Regions from separate parts of the Homo sapiens genome. Here regions 2 and 3 are each reported to be linked to region 1. The links are microRNA targets in miRTarBase. Many come from high-throughput screens and were not tested one by one. Region 1 holds a microRNA gene; each other region holds the end of a gene's coding sequence.
What was found. The annotated mature microRNA hsa-miR-302c-5p reads UUUAACAUGGGGGUACCUGCUG and lies in region 1 at 2,809-2,830, shown strand. An mRNA with a match to its seed (bases 2 to 7 or 8) in the 3' UTR can be bound and repressed. Matches are read on the target gene's strand: a 7mer-m8 pairs with bases 2 to 8, a 7mer-A1 pairs with bases 2 to 7 and ends in A, and an 8mer does both.

Region 1 (5,000 bases):
TGTCAGTATAAGAAAATACTTAAAATATGTGGTATGTTACAGAGCATTTCACACTTTTTAAAAAGAAAAGGATTCACTTAAATGGGTGACAGGCAGGGTAAGGGTAAATAAGATATGGTACTCTCACCTAAAAGTATATAATTTCCCTAATAGAAAGTATTGCTACCAATGTGGTATAAAAGGCTACAGAAGATAGACTGTATAAAGCGAAAAAATTATAAACCTGTATGTACAGCAATTTGTAGCGTAAATTATATAGAAGTATGGGTTTTTTGGCACATGCGTGAAAAATTTTAAGAGGTTTTCAAAAATATTTTACTTTTCTATAATTAAAATTTTAAAGATAATCAGCACATAGGTAATACAAAAAAAATCAGTGCCAATAAAAATAAGCAAAAGTTACAATTTTCCTATAGAGAAGGATGTTTAAACTGTGCTTACATATAGATTTAGTGAGGAATTTCAGCCTCTAGATTTTGCTTCAAAATTAAACCTAAGAGTTACCATGGAATTAAAACTGTACAGTAGTTTACCATAGGGAAACAAATTCTAACTTGATTTGTTTTATCTTCCATATTCAAAACATTTTCACACAGGGAAATAATAAGAGAAGAAAGGAACAAATACCCTAGGGGCTCAAAATCATTACCCGGACTTGTTTCCTGCCAGGTAGAGGCTCTGTGCTAATGATCTTCACAATCACTCCACTCACGAACTGTGGTCCTGTTGCATTAACTTTCTCCTGGGTGCGACACTCTTCCCTGTTGGCTGCTGATTAGAAAAGGAAAAAGACCAGGACTAAATCTCTTACACTTAACAACAATTTAATACTTAGGAGGACTACCTTAGAATAATTCCTGAGGCAGATTTAAATAATTTAAAACGTATTTAATTTTAAAGTAAACAATTAAAGGTTATATGTCATACTGCTTATTTCAAAATACCATGAATAAAACTCAGAAAGTTTTATTATTCTACATGCAAATTGTTACTGCTAGAAGAGCATTCGTAAAGCCTTTAAATTTGCCCCTTCTCCCTGAACAAAGGAACAGTAAATTTTTACTCAATAAAGTTAAAAAAAAGTTAAAGGATACTGTGTTTTAAATACATTATTATTCAAACGTGAACATTTATTTTTACAAGAAATGAGAATTTAAAATGTATCCTAATTTTGAATTCATAGGAATTCTGCTTTAACTTGTTCCTGCTTGTGGTGCATACTACAGAATGAAATTAACAGGTGAGAAACTACAATCTTCATTCCTACAAACTTGCTCAGTCTGCAAACTCTGCACTCATGTGCTTGATGAAAACTGTAGAGAAAACTCAGGTTATTTAAAAAATTGTTTTAAATGAGCCTTTTAAATATTCTTATATCAAGAGTAAGTAACACATCTGGATAACTTAACAAATCAAGAATTGTTCTAATAATGAAATAGAATAATCAAGTTTTTTAAAATTAAAATTTATCTTATAACAACTCAGAGATAGCATTTACATATATAAGTACATTATAATGTTGTCAAAACTATCAGTGATCTTTACTTTTTTCATTTTTCATTCCAGTGTTTTGAGGTACTCCACTGTCTGTTTCCATTTCTGACTCTGATTTTATTTGGGATATTGTTTTTTTTAAAGAAGCCATGCTAGCTTTTTGTAGCGCTAAATACTCTTTTTTCAAATCCATCCATTCGCTCCTACAAGGAAAGAAATGGTGATAACAGATGACTAAATATAAAAAGTAAATAGGGAAATATCTAAATATATACATTCACAATGACTTGGAGCAACTCCTCCACCAACTTTCCTGTTTCTTTAAACACATATTCAAAATATTTCCTAGGTTCTAAAGACATTTAGCAAAATAAGCTAAGGGAGTTCCTCTTCCCCCAATATTCAGATTAAATGTTTTAAGATTGCCAATTAAATTTTTGAGTGTCTGAAGTATTTTAATTTATAAAAGTAAAATTTTAGCATTAATTCCTTAACTAGTAACATTTACTAAATCAGTCATCTCTGTGGGAAAAGGGCGAGATTAAAGATTTGTTAAACTGCTTCCAATTTGAGAGATAACATTCCTTAGTATTTACTTGAATCAAAAAGAATTTCTAAGTAGAACAAAACACCCCGTGGAAGCAATCTATTTATTTACATACATTTAACATGTAGATGCTTCTTCAAACAGAGTTCCTCCAGATAGAAACACAATGCCTTTCTCGGCTCAGTGGGAGCACTCATTGTTACCCTAATCTATGCCATCAAACAAGCAGATAGGAGATTTTCTTTTTCTTTTTCTTTTTTTTTTTTAAGAGGAAGATATCTTGTGGTAATGGTTTTAGCTGTTAACATTGACATCTGTATACTTCAAAAAAAAAAAAAAGGATCCAGACCCACCCAGGATCATACATTCCCTGAGAGCTGATACATTAAAATAACAAAAGGCCCTTGTAATGATTCTCTGAGATAAAAAGGCAAAAGGAATTCAAGAGTTAAGAATAGTATAAATAGAAGTGGCTGAAGTCCCTGCCTTTTACCCTTCTGGAGGAGAACACGAATCTTTGGGAACTAGTTCAGGAAGGTAAAAAAATTTTTTTCTTCTAAAGTTATGCCATTTTGTTTTCTTTCTCCTCAGCTCTAAATACTCTGAAGTCCAAAGAAGTTGTATGTTGGGTGGGCTCCCTTCAACTTTAACATGGAAGTGCTTTCTGTGACTTTAAAAGTAAGTGCTTCCATGTTTTAGTAGGAGTGAATCCAATTTACTTCTCCAAAATAGAACACGCTAACCTCATTTGAAGGGATCCCCTTTGCTTTAACATGGGGGTACCTGCTGTGTGAAACAAAAGTAAGTGCTTCCATGTTTCAGTGGAGGTGTCTCCAAGCCAGCACACCTTTTGTTACAAAATTTTTTTGTTATTGTGTTTTAAGGTTACTAAGCTTGTTACAGGTTAAAGGATTCTAACTTTTTCCAAGACTGGGCTCCCCACCACTTAAACGTGGATGTACTTGCTTTGAAACTAAAGAAGTAAGTGCTTCCATGTTTTGGTGATGGTAAGTCTTCCTTTTACATTTTTATTATTTTTTTAGAAAATAACTTTATTGTATTGACCGCAGCTCATATATTTAAGCTTTATTTTGTATTTTTACATCTGTTAAGGGGCCCCCTCTACTTTAACATGGAGGCACTTGCTGTGACATGACAAAAATAAGTGCTTCCATGTTTGAGTGTGGTGGTTCCTACCTAATCAGCAATTGCGTTAACGCCCACACTGTGTGCAGTTCTTGGCTACAGGCCATTACTGTTGCTAATATGCAACTCTGTTGAATATAAATTGGAATTGCACTTTAGCAATGGTGATGGATTGTTAAGCCAATGACAGAATTTAAACCACAGACTTACTTTGATAGCACTCTTAATGGTATAACTTCTTCTCCCATTTTATGTCTCTCTTTATGTTTTTTCTTATGTTTCCTTTTTGTTTTCAAGAGAGAGCTATCTTTTAGATCTCCAGTATCCTTTTCCTCTTCAGTAGAGATTTCTATATCTTGAAATAAATAAAAAAGCTCTCCGTTAAGACATGGGGCTGTGAAATGGGTGAAACAGAAGCCAATTAAAACCTAATTAATTAAAAACTAATTAATTAAAATTAATTAGTTTTATCTAATTAAAACCTTGTAGTTTTACCTCTATTTTCCTTGGAAGCTTCTGATGCTTCCTTAATGATGTCTTTCTGAATAATTTTCTTTACTTTTGATCGGGGAGCTAGGGATTCTGCATCTTCAGAGCTGCTTCTCTTCCTCTTCCCTGTTCTGACTTCAGGTAAGCTAGATGCTTCAACTCTGTCCCGTTTTTTCTTTTTCTTTGAGCACTGCTTTTGGGGTTCAGTGGACTCAATGTCAGAGCCCTCAGATGTGGGTCTGGATCTTTTCATTTTACTGATGCTGGTGTTGCTTGTGTCCATGTTTTCTTCTTTGGCTTGGATATTGTCTTCCTTTTTCATTCGGCCTTTCTTCTTCTTTTTCTTTTTCTTCTCTTCTGTAAAAGTGCCATCATTATTAGTTCATCTTACTTCAACTACACCTATTTAAATATTGAAAAATACTCACCCACAACTCTTAAGGCTGGAATGGGCTTATTTTTCACTGTTTTAGGAAATATGCCAGGTTTTCTTGGTGCTTCTTCTGGTGGGTTGTTAAGAAACTGAAATGATTGCAAAAGTTACTATTTTAATACTTGTTTTCTTTTCTTTCTTTTTTTTTTTTTAGGATCTGGACTTACCTCAATTGCTTTTGCTGCTTGTTCTTTTGTTTCAAATTCCACAAACGCAAATCCCTTTGGATCTCCAGTAGACTTATAATGTGGTATACTTATATAAACAACATTGCCACATTTCCCAAATACTCTTTCAATCCAGCTGTGATTAACATTTTTGGGAAGTAACTCCTATTATAAATTAAAAGCAATATTAGAGTTTTTCACAATCAGAATGTCAATAAATTTTTAACTTAATTATATTGTTTCTGTGCCAGTTTCTGACTGGGGACCCGGGTTCTTAAGCTTACCACATACACTGTGCGTTCATCCTCATCCTTTGGTCTTTCCCCCAGAGGTTTTTTCCTCCGGATTCTGGTGCCTTCCAAATCAAGCTTTAAAATAGTATATTACATTAATAAAACTAATATTATTTATAATTGTAAGCTATAATCATATAATAATCATTACGTTAACATTCTTTATAATTATAAACTATAAATATAAACAGTAGTTATTCTTGATTCTTACCTCTACAACAGCTGAACTTCTCAATGCTCTGGCAATTAACTTCCCATCAGTAGTCAATTTTTTCATTTTGTTAAAAGACACAAGTAGTGATATATCAACATCTAAAGAAAATGAAAAAGTTAATATGTTAGTGTATCAGCAGGATTAATTCAATTTGGTACAATTTAACCTGCCCCTCAGGCCCTCAGGCTCGGTGGCTCATGCCTGTAATCCTAGTACT
Region 2 (5,000 bases), not on the chromosome of region 1:
ATTAAGGTGTTCATTACAATGGAGGAGGTAAATTTAAAGAGTCACTGTATTTTTTGCCTTCCAAGATCACTTTAGGTGTCCTTAATGTACTGTAAAATCTTTCTCTTTTTCTGAACAAAGGCTGAGCCTTTAATGACCATCAGTTGTTAAAAAGACCAGTGCTAAGCTGGGCACACTGGCTCGTGCCTATAATCCCAGCTACTCGGGAGGCTGAGGTGGGAGGATTGCTTGAGCCCAGGAGACTGAGGCTGCTGTGAGCTGTGATGGTGCCGCTGCACTCCAGCCGGTGTGACAGAGCAAGACCCTGTCTCAACAAAAAACAACAAAAAGCTGGCTCCTCACCCTGATACAGGGATTCTATCTTCCTGTTGTGTACTAATGAAATAACTGTTCACTATTGTGGGTTCTACTTGCAGGGTTCAGACTAGGCAATGTGGTACATGCTATACAGGCAACTGAGCAGAGCATTCATGCCACTGACCTGGTACCTCGCTTATGCTTAACATTAGCCAACCTGAACCGTGTGATTTATTTCATCTGTGACACCATCCTCTGGGTGAGGAGCGTAGGTCTCACCTCTGGCATCAACAAAGAGAAATGGCGAACGAGGGCTGCTCACCACTACTACTATTCTCTTCTGCTGAGCCTGGTCAGGGATCTGTATGAAATCTCCCTGCAGATGAAACGAGTTACATGTGACAGGGCAAAGAAAGAGAAATCAGCATCCCAGGATCCTCTTTGGTTCAGCGTGGCTGAGGAGGAAACAGAATGGCTCCAATCCTTTCTACTTCTTTTATTCCGATCTCTGAAGCAGCATCCTCCCTTGCTCCTGGACACAGTGAAGAACCTTTGTGATATCCTGAACCCTTTGGACCAGCTGGGGATCTATAAATCCAATCCTGGCATCATTGGACTTGGAGGTCTTGTGTCCTCTATAGCAGGCATGATCACTGTGGCATATCCTCAGATGAAGCTGAAGACCCGTTAGGGTGTTTTTAGGCTTGGAACTAGTACCTACTTTAAAAGATGGCCTCTTGGTGGGACAGACATTTGTATAAGTCACAGGCCATGTCATACTGTGCTTAAGTTCTTGTTCATGTGAGCATTTAACAACCTGTGATGTGGGCAGAGATGAGGCCAAGAACGGAGAAGGGAGGAGCATGAAGAGTTGTATGTTTTTGGAGTGCTGGAGTGACTTGTGAATTTCTGAATATTTTCCCTTCATCTAACATTGATTGAACATCTCTTATGTGCATAGTGGGAGCTTAGTATTTGCTGAATGAATAAAAATTGAAAGGAAAAAATTTAAAAAGACCCAATCGCACTGATCATTGAACACCAGTATACAATAACTTTAGGGTCATATGGATCATTGGTTTCACGATTACAGTAGGTCTGGTGCATGGCACTCTCAGATCTAGTAGAGGCTCTGATGTCAGTAGCAGGATGGAGGAGAGCTGGGCTTACAGCCTCTCAACTTGTTGGCCCTTATACCATCACTGCACTCATGTCCTTGCTCTGTGCAGAAGTAGAATCAGAAAAGCATCAGGCACCTTCATGGTATAAATTGTGTCTATGGGTGCAGTGAATAAGCAAAAATCAGAAGCAGACCGGAGGGACTTATAAAAATAGGTACAGGGTCACAATGGGTGCCTATATGTAGCCTGTGACAGATAAGAAGCTGACAGTGAGACAAACAAAAAACTGAGGCTAGAGCCTCATTCCTCTGACTCCTAATCCAGTGTTCTCTCCATGCTCTCCCACTGTCTTCAGAATTGAGTAGAAATGTGATCCCCTCCTGAATCCTGTTTTTTGCCTCTTACTCTCCCATAATTTGGAAATTTCCTTGTCCAGTGGTTTATATTCTTTTCTAGAAAAACTAAAACTGGGTGGAGTGTGGTGGCTCACACCTATAATCCCAGCACTTTGGGAGGCTGAAGCGGAAGGATTGCTTGAGGCCAGGAGTTCAAGACCAGCCTGGGCAATGTAGTGAGACTCCTTCTCTACAACAAAGTGTTAAAAAATTAGCCAGGCATGGTGGAGTATGCCTGTAGTCCCAGATACTCTGGAGGCTGAAGCAGGAGGATCACTTGAGCCCAGGAGTTCAAGGCTGCAGTGAGCTTCCACCGCACTCCAGCCCGGGTGATAGAGCAAGACCCTGTGTCTTAAAAAAAAATTAAGACAGTATTTAGACTTATCAGTTAGATTGTTTTATTTAAATCCTTCTAACAATTTAGGCAATTCTACATTAATTTTCATCAAAATTTATCCAGTCAAAAAAATTTCATGAATACTCCAGATGTAAGAGAGTCACAATTTTCTACGATAAATCAGACATCTTATTTCTAGGGTGATTGAGGGAGGTGGAAAGCGCAGGAGGAAGCCAGTGAAGAGGACAATGGAATGCTGAGTCAATGACATTGACTTGTGTTCCTATCTGCCATCTTGGGTGTGGGTCTTTATATGTGGTTACAGATCCTTTAGTTTGAGGGAGGTGAGGTAGAGAAATAGGATGCCAGCAGGTAGGAGGCCGATGTCAGTCCTCCCAGCAAAGCTGTGTCATTTATCTGAATGGAAATGAGAAAATAAATATGTACTCAATAAGTCACATTTCCCAGAAATGTGATTGAGATTCTCAAAAAATAGACTCAGATTCTTGGCTGTCTGTTTAACCAATCACGATATGGGATTTGAGAAATAAAATTTAGGGAATTTTAAGAGACATGAAAGCTACTAGGTCAGGGAAAATAAAAAGCTTAAATAACTATTTTTATTGTCCAGATCCTCTACTGTAATAGATTAACTATGTTCAATAAATTTCTAGACAAAATTGACTTGTGTCTGTGAGTGTGTTCTGGGAAGAGAGAAGAGTTAAACATAAGGCAATCCATCAGATAATCCTCAATCAGCCTACACAGTTGGTACAGCGAGCTCTGGGCTAGAAGATCCAGGCTGAGGAGGAGGATGGAGAAAGATTGAGATGTAGAGCCTCTGGGTTGAGAGGGACCTCTGAAATGAACTCATCTAGACTGCTGCCATGGAGATGGTGCTCTACAGTAGCCCTGTCAATCGCTGGCTGGCTTCTGCCTAGGTAAGTCTGCCTTGAATTCATGGTGGTATGTTATGTTACAGTGGTATCCATCTTGGTACTTTTGTCCTCTGCAATGGTGAGTGGTGGGGAGTTTGGGAAATACTACCTCTTCTAAGAGGTTTGTGTAAACCTTAATGGTGTCCTGGTACCACCCTGTGAATCCTTCTTTGTAACTAATGTTTTCCACCCCAGAGCCTCCACATTCATGAGGGATGCCAAAAATCGAAGAAGTTCTTCGTAGATGTACAGCCCAGCACATTCACAACTGAGCATTGTTGCCTGACAATTCATTTATTCAACAATGAATGTTTGAGTGCCATGCATGGTTTTGGGTATCCACTTGTGAGCAAGATGACCTAGGTCCCTGCTCTCACTTGGTGGAGGGGTAGGGAAAGCAGGTAGGTACGGAGAAGGAAAGAAGATAGAACTCTATGCCCTGCAAGCTACTGCTAGAAAACTAACACTTCTGTCTTCCCTCGGGACTCTCCTAGGCCCTTTCACCACTTCTCACCTCTCACCCACATTCTGCACTCCCAGCTAAAGCAGCCAAAGGACTATTTGATTTGGCAGAGCTTTCAGGCACAAAGCCCTATGTTCCCTCTGGCCCAAAGCCACTACTCTGAAGGCTGAAAACTGCCCTTTGGCTCAGGTTGCTGTCCAGTCACAGCCTCACAGATAATTTGTGCTGAACCTTGAGGTGAGGGCAGAGGCCACTTCTTTAAATACTTTGTCTTCTCTACTGCCTTACATTTGAAAAGCACAGGTTGGATCAATAAGTATTAAACGTATAGCGTATTACTCCTTTGAAGCCTCCCTGCTTGACTCCTCCCTTTCCTGCCTTCTCATTCCCTACTTTATTGCATCACAGATACGTAATTTATTACCAAGGATCTTTCATAATTCCCCACCCCTGCCTCTTTCTTCTCTTGCCCACACTGTGTGACTTAACAGAGTCAACAATACATATAATTCCACCAGCAACAAAGAAAATAAGTTTTGTTTTCCTATTGTCTGTTTTCATGAAGAGGCCCTTCTTAGTTAATCTGAAAGCTATGGCTTATACCATAGTCCTCCATCATATCTAAAGCCAGGAACTAGAACTTGGGCTTGTGCTTGAGTCCTGGGTAAAGAAGGGTTGAGTGGTGCTAATTCTTGGCTGTCTGGGTGCTCTTGATTAGTGATAGAATCCTAGTCAACACTGTCGCTTATCCAGACCCAGGAGAATAAAAATCTACTTGGCTCTCCTACTCTTCATTCTGGTAGCATCTTAGGCCAGGTAAAGTTCAATAAATTTTTTTGAATTCTAAGAAGTGGGAATTCCTCCCTCAACTCAAAGGCTATATTGTCAAAAACTCAACTCCCGGCTCTGTCGCTTCTTCACTGAGGGCAATTTATCTCCATAATCAAAGATGAATACATTCAGATGAACTCTTCTGTGTGGGTTTAAATTTTACTGTTCAGCATTCAGTCTTGCTAGTAAATAAGAAAAGATGAGAGAAATGGATTGAAAACTCCCACAAGACCCTCTATGGAAAAGGAGCCAAAAGATTGCAGAGGTATATAGAACTTTAGAGCTTTTGAGTTTAATGATGTCTATCCCTATACCTTCTTTCTGGAAAGCAGATTTTTGTGAATTGAGGGCAGGAACATTACAGAACTGATGCTTCATGGCTCTGGAATACTAAGTCCTCTGAGCCTGGATCTCCTTCAGCTCTGCCACCTACCTCCTTGTTTGCTAAATGTCCTTAGAGAAGTTAGGATATGCCTGGGGAACCCTGGGTCATATAACCATGACAACTGGCTGACCCTGTTGTCTCTCCCTCTCTGCCCTCCTCTAGCTGGGAGGTGGAAGCAGCATTGCCCAAGCCTCCCAGGAGTGACAGGAATTGTTTCTGCCTGAGGAGACACT
Region 3 (5,000 bases), not on the chromosome of region 1:
AAAAAGTACCTTTTCTTTTTTCAGCAAAGTATCTACTTTAGGGATATATCTGGCATTTTCCCCCTTATTATTTATATCTTTCAGGAGAACTACTATAATTTAACCTAAATATATTTGTACTTCTTTTTCAAGGTGAGGACCAAGGATCATGTATTTGATAATGTCGGCCACCTTATCAGATACCATATGGATAACAGTTTGCCAATCATCTCCTCTGGAAGCGAAGTAAGCCTTAAACAACCAGTGAGAAAAGATAATAATCCAGCACTTTTGCATTCCAACAAATGACAGTATTGAAGCACCATCACACTGATATTTCAAGAAACCCCATTTTGTATTAGGACACAAAGATAATTTAAACTTTGTTTGTAGATAAAATAGAGCACAAACTGTGAAGTGCATCTTTCCAAGACCATCATGGACCAGGTCCTCTATAAAATGAAGAACTAACAAAAATTAGTCTTCAGAAATGAAAATCAGAAAAGAGGAAGAGGGTTGGTCATTTTAAAAGAAATTATATGTATGCACGGATGTCACTTTTTAAGGCCATATTGCATTGATAACAAGCTAAAAGCACAACTAAAATTTCACATGCTAACGACAACTTGAATGAACTGCTGGGGCAGTGGTATGTGCCTTTCAACTTGATAATTTGGGGGACATTTTCATATTGGGAGATTAATTCTAAGTATCTTCATGTTCTATGACTATAGAACCATTTGCCAAAAAAAAAAGCTTTTCTTGCTACAAAAAATAAGCAATTTTCTTGAGCCTTATTGACTTTATTACATTTTCTGTTTAGCAGCATTTTTCACTGCAATGTTAAAATAAATATGACATTGAATTCGAACTGTGTGTATGTCAGTGGAATCAAATCAAAAGCCACTAACATGGCTGTCTGTTTCATTGGACTGTCCCATTTGCTGGTTAAAAGGATTGGGGCCCAAATCCTCTGGCCTAGCATTTCTCAGTGTTTGCTATTCAGACTGTCTAAATACAGCATGTGACAAGCTGAAGAAGCCAAATCTATCAGTCATTTCTGATTTCATTATATTCTCCCCCTCTTCCTGCTAAAAAGACAAAAAACAAAAAACAAAAAAAACAAAAAAAACCTCATGAGTGCATGGATTTAAAAGAGGGCAAACAAAACCAGTATTCTTCATATTTACTATTCAAATTGGTTTCATTCTTAGTAAAAGTACAGAATCTATTTGAAATTATAGTAAAATTTCTTCTTGATTGGCTGACACTGAATCATAGTTTCTCACCTACATATATCCTTAGCACCTCGTATAGATATGATCAGACAAAATGCAGAAGGAAAAAAAAACATATTGAATGAAGCACTTGGAAAGATTTTCCACATGTAGACCAACTGGTAAACTAACAGAGTGATTAAGCATGGTGTACAGAAAAGCATTACGCTGAGTCTTACCAGTGTGACCTTCAGCAAGTTGCTGAATCTGTTTGGGTTCCAGTTTCCTTGGCAATAAAATGAGCTAAATGGGCTAGGTGAATTTGGAGGACTACTTCAGTCCTAACTTATAGTATGAGTCTCTAAAAAGCAAGTTTTTCATTTGTTAGAGGTCGTTATTGATAACCAGTCTGTATAGTTAAGGTAAAAAATTAAGCTTTTCTTCTATAGTCTGTGTCCATACTCACAGAATGAATGGCACACCTGAGATCAACATTCACATAGTTTAGACTCCAAACCATTCAGTCTAAAATACTGAAACTTTGGAATATAGGGAATGATGATAAAAGTGGATTTGGTTTGAGTAGCAGAAAACTACTTATGTCCTTTTCTTGCCTTTCCAAGAAAAATGTTTTTTGTTTTTTTTTTTAATCTTGAGTTATCTGGATATTGCCTTGACTCCATTTCATTTTGGCTATGTAGATACAACTTAGTCTTTGTGATTGTGATATATTTGCTAAGTTTTAAATAAAACTTCTTTTGGATAGAAATCATTAGAAACCAAGCATACTGCACTCTAATATTTTACTGTAAAGGCTTATGATTTTTATTTCTACTGCCATTAATTTTTTAGATGGATTTGTTTCCTCTTACACAACTAGAATTAATGTATTTTTCACCAGTTTTCCATATACCTTAGGTCTTGATCGTTTGTCCTTAAAAAGGGGATCAGCATGAGTATAGACAGTAGAAATGTATGGGTAGTCTAACCACTTTTATCAGAGACAGAGCAGGGCTGTGGTCTCACTCTAGCTGAGCAGAGTATTAACTTGGTAGCAAGAGTTCCTGATACAAATAGATGCAATGACTGTAAATGGTGTCAGCAGTACACATGGATAATCAGTATTTGACTGTAATAGTATAGTAGTTAAATACAGCACTTAAAAATACCACAGACACAGTTAAAGCAAAAGGAAACAATAAAAGGAATGTCTGCATGCTATTTTAATCTCACATTCTTTATCTGTCTTAAAGTGGAAATCCATTTGCCTATAAATACCTGTAAACGACTTTAAAAAATAAATGATTATTGCTTTGTGACAATTGACAGAATATGTCTGATGTTTGGGATTTGGAAACTGTCATTTGTAAAATGTATCAGGGAAACACATTGGCTCAATCAAACTGGATAATTCAAGGTGAGTTTATTAAAGGGACTATTTACAAAGGTGTGGGCAGAGTTTAGGGAAATCAGGAGGGAGAATGCAGTGCCTTGGGGCCAATTAAGGGAGAAAGGGAAAGAACAGCTAACAGAATCTGGAGAGGGAGCTGTGTGCAAGGGCTGCCTTTTAGGAGCTGTGGCCTGTAGTGGAGGAATGCAATCAGCCCTGCTGACTCAACTAAGAGGCAGTGAGGGGCATTCATAACCCAACGTTTTTCTGCTCCCCCTATCTGTCTCCTGCTGGGATTCTCCAGTGGCCCAAGTAACTTGAAGACAGAGAGCAAGGGAGCTCCTTGATGCAGTTCTGGAGGTCAGCCTCCTGGGAACAGAGGAGGATGGAAAAGACTAGAGGGGGAGATCTGGAAGGGCAAATAAATGGAGTACATCTAGCACAGAGGACTTTGAAGAGAGTCAAGCTTCTAAAAGCATTAGAGAGGCTTTGGGTTAGCCAGTAAGGCAAAGCTAATTTGCAGAGAAATAAGTCCAGATTCTCAGGTAACCATAAATGAATTACAGCAAAAATGTCAACTTGTTACTATTATTAAAACTCAAGCTATATTTTGAAGCATTGGTTATTTTGCTCAAGAACAACTTCAAATGCATTTCAATCTTACAGAGATACTTTTAATCCCACCTTCATGTTTCTTGCAATTCCTTCTACTAATTTTGCCATTTTATTACTTGTAATTATATATGGAAAAGTAATGAACCTGACCCTGTTACCTTTTATGATTGGAATTATAGACCGACAAAAATTATAATATGAAATCACTATGTCAAACACATGTGAAATATACCATCTGCATCTGTGGAAAATATTTAAGTATCGACATATTAGTGTTAAAAATGAATTGTCTGTAGTTTGCCATAGTCTTACTAATGGGACAAACGGTTTTAGTCTGTGAATGAAAGAGAATTTATCACTACAGACTCTGAAAACATCAAAAGAATAATAGGGGAATGCAACACACAGTTCTACACATATAAATTTGACAACAACTTGGATGAAATAGACCAGTTCCTCAAAAAGTACAAACTACCACAATTTAGCCAATATGAAATTGATCATTTGAATAACCTTATAACTATTATGAAAACTGAATTCACAATTACCTCCCCCAAAGAAATTCCAGGCTCAGATGTTTCATTGGAGAATTCTATCATTTGAAGAAATAACATTAATGCTATACAATTGCTTCCAGAAAATGGAAGAGAAGGGAATACTTCTCAATTCATATTTTGAAGGTAAAATTACTCTGACATCAAAACCAGACAAAAACAGCAAAAAAAAAGAAAACTACTGATGAAATCTCTGTGAATATGATCAAAAATCATTAACAAAATATTAGCAAGGATTATTCCCCAATATATAAAAAGAATTATGCACCATAATATGACTAAGTAAGGTTAATTCCAGGAATACAAGGCTGGTTCAATGTTTGAAAATCAATCACTGTAATCCACTATATTAAGAAGCTAAAGAAGAAAAATCACATGATATCAATTGATGCAGAAAATGCATTTGATACAATTCAACATCAATTTATGATAAAAATTCTTAGTAAACTAAAAATAAATAAACACCAACTACAGAGGCCACACTTGGTGGCTCACACCCGTAATCCCAACAGTTTGGGAGGCCAAGGCAGGCAGTCGCTTGAGCTCAGGAGTTTGAGACCATCCTGGGCAGCATGGCAAAACCCCATCTCTGCAGAAAATTTTTAAAATATTAGCTGGGTGTGGTGATGTGCACCTGTAGTCCCAGCTACTCTGAAGGCAGACATGGGAAGATCACTTGAGCCTGGGAGGCTAAGGCTGCAGTGAGCCATAGCTGTGCCCTGGCACTCCAGCCTGGACAATAAAGTGAGACCATGTCTTAAAAAAAAAATCTACAAAGAACCTACAGCTAACTAACATTATACTTAAAGTCATGGCCTGAGTCATTTCCCCCTAAAATGAGGAGCAAGACAATGACATCTATTACCACTATTCTTGTCAATATACTACTGGAAGTTCTAGAGAGTGCAATAAGACAGGAAAAGGAAATAAAAGGTATTTTATTTAAAGATCAGAAAAGAAGAAATAAAACTGTCCCTATTTGCAGATAACATGATTGTTTATGTGCAAAAAATTCCAAGGATCTACAAAAACCCTCAAAATCCCCAAATCCAGAAAATGACCAAAAAAATCCCTCCTAGAACTAAGTTTAGCAAAGCTTAGAGGATACAAGATAAACATACAAAATTAAATTGCATTTCTATATATTAACAATGAACATATAGACACAAAATTTAAAATGCAATACTATTTACAGCTGCTAAAAAGGACATGCATGTAAACCTAACAAAATACGTACAAGATGCA

Region 2: the mRNA of PEX11A is a reported target of hsa-miR-302c-5p. Seed matches in the 3' UTR shown: 7mer-A1 at 2,015-2,021.
Region 3: miRTarBase lists SHC4 as a target of hsa-miR-302c-5p. Seed matches in the 3' UTR shown: 8mer at 820-827.

What each region holds. Positions count from the first base shown.
Region 1 is chr4:112,646,232-112,651,231 of GRCh38, reverse strand. It overlaps MIR302C (microRNA 302c), which reads left to right and starts at 2,802; the gene lies at 2,802-2,869. It overlaps LARP7 (La ribonucleoprotein 7, transcriptional regulator), which reads right to left. Exons shown (of 13, transcript NM_016648.4): 3 at 4,781-4,881; 4 at 4,561-4,644; 5 at 4,277-4,441; 6 at 4,105-4,198; 7 at 3,683-4,033; 8 at 3,398-3,542; 9 at 1,546-1,697; 10 at 650-771. MIR302CHG (miR-302/367 cluster host gene) reads left to right here and starts at 1,181. Exons shown (of 3, transcript NR_146092.1): 1 at 1,181-1,240; 2 at 2,633-2,719; 3 at 4,264-4,512. MIR367 (microRNA 367) reads left to right here and starts at 3,291; the gene lies at 3,291-3,358. It also overlaps MIR302D, MIR302A and MIR302B. RefSeq lists an enhancer at 1,639-2,361.
Region 2 is chr15:89,679,365-89,684,364 of GRCh38, reverse strand. It overlaps PEX11A (peroxisomal biogenesis factor 11 alpha), which reads left to right. Exons shown (of 3, transcript NM_003847.3): 3 at 417-2,830. The coding sequence ends at 988. It overlaps PLIN1 (perilipin 1), which reads left to right and starts at 4,998. Exons shown (of 9, transcript NM_002666.5): 1 at 4,998-5,000.
Region 3 is chr15:48,821,259-48,826,258 of GRCh38, reverse strand. SHC4 (SHC adaptor protein 4) reads left to right here. Exons shown (of 12, transcript NM_203349.4): 12 at 133-2,518. The coding sequence ends at 288. Among named protein-coding and RNA genes, the nearest start is that of CEP152, 13 kb to the right of the region's middle.